Homo sapiens: one gene and its partner. The protein of the gene in region 2 interacts with the protein of the main gene of each other region in a biochemical or structural test. Each region holds a gene or a part of one and is shown on either strand. Other genes may lie near its edges.

What was found.
Region 1: of the proteins of GRK5 (region 2) and RHO, one has a biochemical effect on the other in vitro, tested with the Homo sapiens proteins (one study listed by BioGRID).

Annotation. Positions count from the first base shown.
Region 1 is NC_000003.12:129,531,551-129,535,304, reverse strand, and holds part of RHO (rhodopsin), read right to left. Parts: intron 3,055-3,754; coding exon 2,889-3,054; intron 2,773-2,888; coding exon 2,533-2,772; intron 1,698-2,532; coding exon 1,587-1,697; 3' UTR 1-1,586. UniProt on the Homo sapiens protein: Photoreceptor required for image-forming vision at low light intensity. Required for photoreceptor cell viability after birth.
Region 2 is NC_000010.11:119,457,857-119,460,348, reverse strand, and holds the end of GRK5 (G protein-coupled receptor kinase 5), read right to left. Parts: 3' UTR 604-2,492; downstream 1-603. UniProt on the Homo sapiens protein: Serine/threonine kinase that phosphorylates preferentially the activated forms of a variety of G-protein-coupled receptors (GPCRs).

The DNA of each region.
Region 1 (3,754 bases), on a different chromosome or scaffold from region 2:
AGCCCCAGGGGACTCTGTGCTGCTTGGCTCTGCTCATTGCTCAATCCAGCCATCCCAGGGTCAGGGATCAGGTGGAAGCTGGCAGTTTCAATCTATCCTGTGGATAGAGTGTGAAAGCAACAAAACCCACCACCGTTAATACCAACATAGGAGCTGAGCTTTTAATGGCCCAATTTGCCTTAGTCTCCAGGCAGAGCTGGGTAAAGCTAGAGCTTCTGGCTTTGCTTATATGGAGAAGGGGGAGCAGTTACTGAGGCAGCTTAATTCTGACACCTCAGAGATGTGGCCAGCTTTTTGGAGCAGATTCTCCAGAATGGAGAATGGACTAGCAACTGCTGAAGATGGGCTTGTCTGGCAAGGGAAACTGGAAACTGGGGCCCATGAACATCCCCAAGGAAGGTAGGCCCAGTGGAATTTCCCACTCTTTGTTTCTAAGCTCTTCGAGATAAGGATGACATCAGGGACTCAGCTGTTAATTAAATGTGGGCGGGTGAGCATGGCTTCTAGAGGCTCCATGCTCTAGATGCTGGGACCCAGGTGCTAGAGCAAAAGAGCAGGTGGCTTCCAGAGGCTGAGAGAAAGGCCTGTCTCTCCATAGGCCACATTGGGAAGGGGAGGCACGGGACCTGGGGCCCCACACTAGGGGTGAGACCCCAGGCCCAATCTCACCCTCATTGGGAACTTGGCCTTCACCGTCCCCCTCCCCCAGTGTTGTTTTTTCAGGTCTGATGACTGCATTCTGCATTCCTGTGACTGTCCCTGCCTACAGCCCAACCCCCAGCCCTGGTCTGGCCTTGATGCCTAGCTAATTTTTAAAAACCTGCCCCAAGGTTGGGTGAAACCCCATCATCTGAATGCCCAATCTCAAAATGTTCACTATCAGGAGGTGATAATCATAGTAATTAACTAGTTACATTAATTGATGTTATTCACAACATTAACTAGAATCTGTACAGCTTCTTGCTATTTACAAAGTGCTGAAACACACACATAGACACACACACACCTCTTTTGGTCTTCTCAGTAGCTGCGTGTCGGCAGGACCAGGGATCTGGGATTTCCATTTTATAGGAGAAGAAAGTGAGGCCCAGGGAGGGAAAAACAACTGCTCCATATCATTAGCCAAGTATGAGTTGCTGCTGCTGCGAGGGTCTGAGAGGATAGATATGTTCTCCCTTCCCATTCATTCCTCCATTCCTTCCTGCATCCATCCAGCATTTATTAAGCACCTACTGTGTGCCCCATTCTGTGCTAGACACTTATCCCTAAGCTGGGACACTTTTCCAGAAAGCAAGAATCCTCGTGTTCCTGAAAGATGAGTTGGGAGGAGGAGGGGCACACATCCCGCTGGCCTTGGGGAACGTGGGACTCCAGATCAGTAGGTCTTGGTGGATGTCCCTTCTCAGGCTGTCCCAGGTGAGTGAGGAGCCTCATTAATTATTTCTTAAAAAAAAAAAAAAAATTAAGGAGCCTATGTGACTTCGTTCATTCTGCACAGGCGCTGCTCCTGGTGGGATGGCTGTGGCTGGGGGAAGGTGTAGGGGATGGGAGACGCCTATAGTCGGCCACAGAGTCCTAGGCAGGTCTTAGGCCGGGGCCACCTGGCTCGTCTCCGTCTTGGACACGGTAGCAGAGGCCTCATCGTCACCCAGTGGGTTCTTGCCGCAGCAGATGGTGGTGAGCATGCAGTTCCGGAACTGGAAGGCAAGAGGCTTGAGTCAGGGCCAGGGCTGCCCACAGTGTGCTTGGAACTGGCACGTTAGTGAGGTTCGCCCCGACCCTTTGCCTGCTTCTGCCCCTCACGATTCCAGCGCCCCATCCACTCAAATCCAGCTTCCTGGAGGGAACCTGCTAGGCAGACGCTCCTCACCCCTAGAGATGCCAGGGACTGAGCACAAGGGGGCTGTGTCACCCGTGACATTTCATGGTGCCCTCTGTGTGCCAAGGGTGTTCTGTAAATTATCTCTTGTAATCCAAGAGTTTGGTGTTTTGCCCTTTCTACCTTTCTATGGATGAGGAAACCAAAGCACAGAGAAGGAAATTGACTTGCCCAGGGCCATACAGCTAGAAAATGGCAGAGCTGACTTCAGAGACTGTTTACCCAACTGTTTACCCCTCGGAGGTACCTCTCCGAGGAACCCTTTACCCCTTTACCCCTCAGAATAAGACTTTTTAGCTCCTTATTCAGCTTTATGGAGACTGGCCCATCCCATTCCCGACTTGGGTCCTTCTGACTTTGACATTGGGCTTCCAGAACTAGCTGACTGGAGCTTCTCCCACCTGAGTGAGCATCTGAGCCACCTGTGGAGGGCTTGCTGGAAATGCAGGTTCCTGGGCCCACCCTGAGATTCAGCAGTTCTGAGTGGGGCCAGGAATCTGCATTTCTCACACACTCCCCATTGGGACTGCTGACCCAAGACTGCTGCCAGTAACCCTGATGGAGCCCCCTCCCCTGCCCTGGGAAGTAGCTTGTCCTTGGCAGGCAGCGCCTGTGGCCTGGGGCACTGGGGCCCTCCCACCCGCAGTAGGCACCTGCTTGTTCATCATGATATAGATGACAGGGTTGTAGATGGCGGCGCTCTTGGCAAAGAACGCTGGGATGGTCATGAAGATGGGACCGAAGTTGGAGCCCTGGTGGGTGAAGATGTAGAATGCCACGCTGGCGTAGGGCACCCAGCAGATCAGGAAAGCGATGACCATGATGATGACCATGCGGGTGACCTCCTTCTCTGCCTTCTGTGTGGTGGCTGACTCCTGCTGCTGGGCAGCGGCCTGCAGGACACGGGACCCGGGTCCAGACCATGGCTCCTCCAGGGAGCAGGAGCCGCAGATGCATGCTGGGGGCTGGACCCTCAGAGCCGTGAGGCCGCCCACCCCCCGGCCCGTACCTCCTTGACGGTGAAGACGAGCTGCCCATAGCAGAAAAAGATGATAATCATGGGGATGGTGAAGTGGACCACGAACATGTAGATGACAAAAGACTCGTTGTTGACCTCCGGCTTGAGCGTGTAGTAGTCGATTCCACACGAGCACTGCAGGCCCTCGGGGATGTACCTGAGGACAGGCAGGTAGGGAGACCCTGCCTGTGAGGGACTTGGGAACAGCCAAGGTGGCTGCCGAGCGCTGGCCCTTTCTGGGGCTTCACATTCCCTCCCTGGAAAAGGGGATCATAAACGTCTGCATGGCTGGGTGACAGGATGGAATGGATCAGATGGGGATGCAGATGCACCTTGTGGAATCAGTGTCGCTTCATTGTTTGGTGGCTGCGTTACCAGATGACACCACCCAGCCTCTCCCTGCATGCCCAGCCCCAGCATCCACTGCCCGCTGAGGCTAGGGCTATGCCACGCAGAGGGTTGGTGAGGAGGTGGGGAGAGCCCTCAGGCTCTGCATTTGAGGAAGTTTGTACAAACCGAGGTCTTCCTAGCCCCAGGGTGAGAGTATTTTCCAGGCCAAAGATGGACACACAGAGTATCTAAGGGATCTTTGTGCAGCTTCTGGAAACTAGAGGCTTCCAGCGCACGTCATTAGGACGTGGCAATGGTTCCTGATATTGGTGACAGTGGACGGGCCTCAGGAAACCCAGAGCGTCCAGCGGCTCTGCTTCCAGAGGATAGAACTAGGCCAGATTGGAGAAGATGGGGAAAAAGTCCAGGGGGTGGGCTCAAATTCAGCAAGGGGTAAGAAATGGACCCTAGCAAGACTGAGGAGGAAAGGGAAGTGAGAGTGGGAATTTTCTGGAGACAGAGGGACA
Region 2 (2,492 bases):
TTTACCTTTATTTTTAAAACAAACATCTCAGAGTAAGCCCTGCTCATTCTAACAGCTAAGGCAAGCAGGTCGAGGGAGACAGAAGAGGTCTTGGGTCCCAGATCGGGAATCCCAGTTCTGAGGTGCAAGGGCCGCTGTGCCTCACTGGCTACCCCACGTTCCAGCATGTGCCTGGCATGGCGAAGCCTGGACAGCCAGAAAGGCTCCCTCTGCAGAGCCCGCCTCTTCTGTATAAGACCGGGCAGGTGGGACCTGCAAATGCGCCGTTTGGTGTCATGGTGCTGGCACTGGCTCGAGCCCTTGTCACCCAGCTCCTCCTTGGTGCCAAGTGGCCAGAGCACTTCTAGAACCATCTGCTGGGTTTGAGATCAGAAGCCGGCGGCCTGGTAAGAATTCAGGTTTTCTTGGGCCCCGCCCACTGGAGCTGGGCCATCTGTGGGCAGTTCAGGGGGTGGTCAGTGTGGGGGCCGGGTTTGGGTGGGTTCCACTGTCAACCTTAGGAAAGGGTTAGCCCAAAGGCCACAGGCATCTTGGGGACAGCTGTCGTATGCAGAAGAAACAGAACAAGAGCTCAGCAGCAGGAGAGAGATGCCGATGCCATGCTACTTCCATTAAGGAATTTATTTCTCTTTTAAAAACAACAACAGTGGCTCCATCTAGATCCAGCGGCACTGTGACGCGATAGACGGAACACACAGAGTTACAGCAGCGGGAGAACAGAAGCCGCTGCCTTCAGGAGTGACCGCCACTGTGGAAGTTTCCATTCATTAATGTCCAAATCTCCCTGAAAAAAATTAGAAAGCTTTGGATGCTAGAAGGATTCTTATTATTTTAACAACACCAAAAGCCACTAAACTCTTCTAATTGAGAACACTCGCTTAGGGACTGTTACAAAAATGACTTCTTGATGGACTAGGGAAAGACATCTAAATTCCACTTTGGGGGGGAAGTGTCTTTCTCTGCCAGGGAGAGCTGGCTTTTCAAATGTTTTCAATCACTGTCTCCGGCACAAGCCTTTACGTTTAGGCCAGGTGAGACACCCCCGGCCTGTGCAGGGTCTGACTTGCACACGCTGAGCTTCAACAGCTGGGTGGTGGGTGGGGAGGGCAGGCGCAGAAGGGGTCTCTGGGAGAGGAGGCTTTGCAATCGTGGTCTATTGTGATCAGGAAGATGGCAGCTCTCTGTATTCATAATCCACACAGCGATGTCACTTCCAAATGCACAAAGACTTCATACTCACTATCTTTCCACAGCCGGGGCTAAAAAGTTGGAAGATCCTATCTCAGAGTGTTGGGTTATGAAAACAGGAGACCACCTCTTGGAAGTACAGGTATTCAGGAGGACGTGCATGCACACCAGGGGACCCCAGAGGACAGCTGAGTGTCACTCAGGTGTTTCCTCTTCTTCTCAGAGATTTCCAATTATCCAGGAAGCCACCGTCCCCTTTGGCAAGGCCTGGGATGCCAGGCTCAAGGAGGCTGCGGTGCCCCCTCCGTTTTGAGGGCAGCGGCTCGGTGGGAAAGTCGATGGGTAGCTGGAACTGATAACACGAGCCTTTGGGGAAAGGACAGGGTGTGGAGGAAGAGAAGGGATTTCTGCAGCGGGGCCAGGCTCCCGGGAGACGCATGGAGACTTGCGGGCCTCAGGGAGGGAAGGCCTCGGTATCCTCAGGGGCTCACCTGGGCTCTGATCCTACTTGTGCTGTCAATGCAAAGGCTGTGTGTGTTCCCAGGACTTCCCACCACCATTTGTCTCGGCAGCTGCTTGCTGGTATGTGTATGACCCAGGCCTCACAGCTGTGTCTGTGGGGCAGGCTAGGCCTCCCCGCCCCCGCCCCTCCGAGCAATGCCTTTCAGGAAGCCTCCCGTGGCTGCGCAGGCCACAGCAGCAGCGAGCAGCCCTAGAGCCCCGGGTTCCCGGCCAAGGAAGAGGCGAGAATGGGTTGCTGTGGCATGTGAGTGCATCGTCCGCAAGGCGGGGACCGGGTCTTCTTGCTATTTTGGGTGGTATTCTGGGTGCCCCCCAGGGGACTCAATAAACACTTGTAGGGCATCATGGTGACCATGGCAGAGACCGCCTCTGTCCACCAGGGACAGCAGCTCATCTCCTGAAATGCAGATGCAGAGACGCTTCTGAGAGATCCCATGTCTCACCTCAAAGTCACGAAGTCAGTGAACGTCTGGTGAAAAAAAATGTCATGCCTGGAGCAAGAAAGACTCTTCTGTGAAGCGCTCAAATGCATGAACGAGAGTAAATCCGTTCACCGTCCAAATATGCCTTATCCTGGACAGGTAGATGGGTGGACAGTGTTGTTTGCTTTTAATTTTAAAATATCTTTTAAAAAATGACCGTATAGGCCAGGGACAGTGGCTCACACCTATAACCTCAGCACTTTGGGAGGCTGAGGCAGGAGGATAGCTTGGGCTCAGGAATTCGAGGCCAGCCTGGGCAACATGGGGAGACCCCCCCCCCATCTCTACAAAAAATTTTAA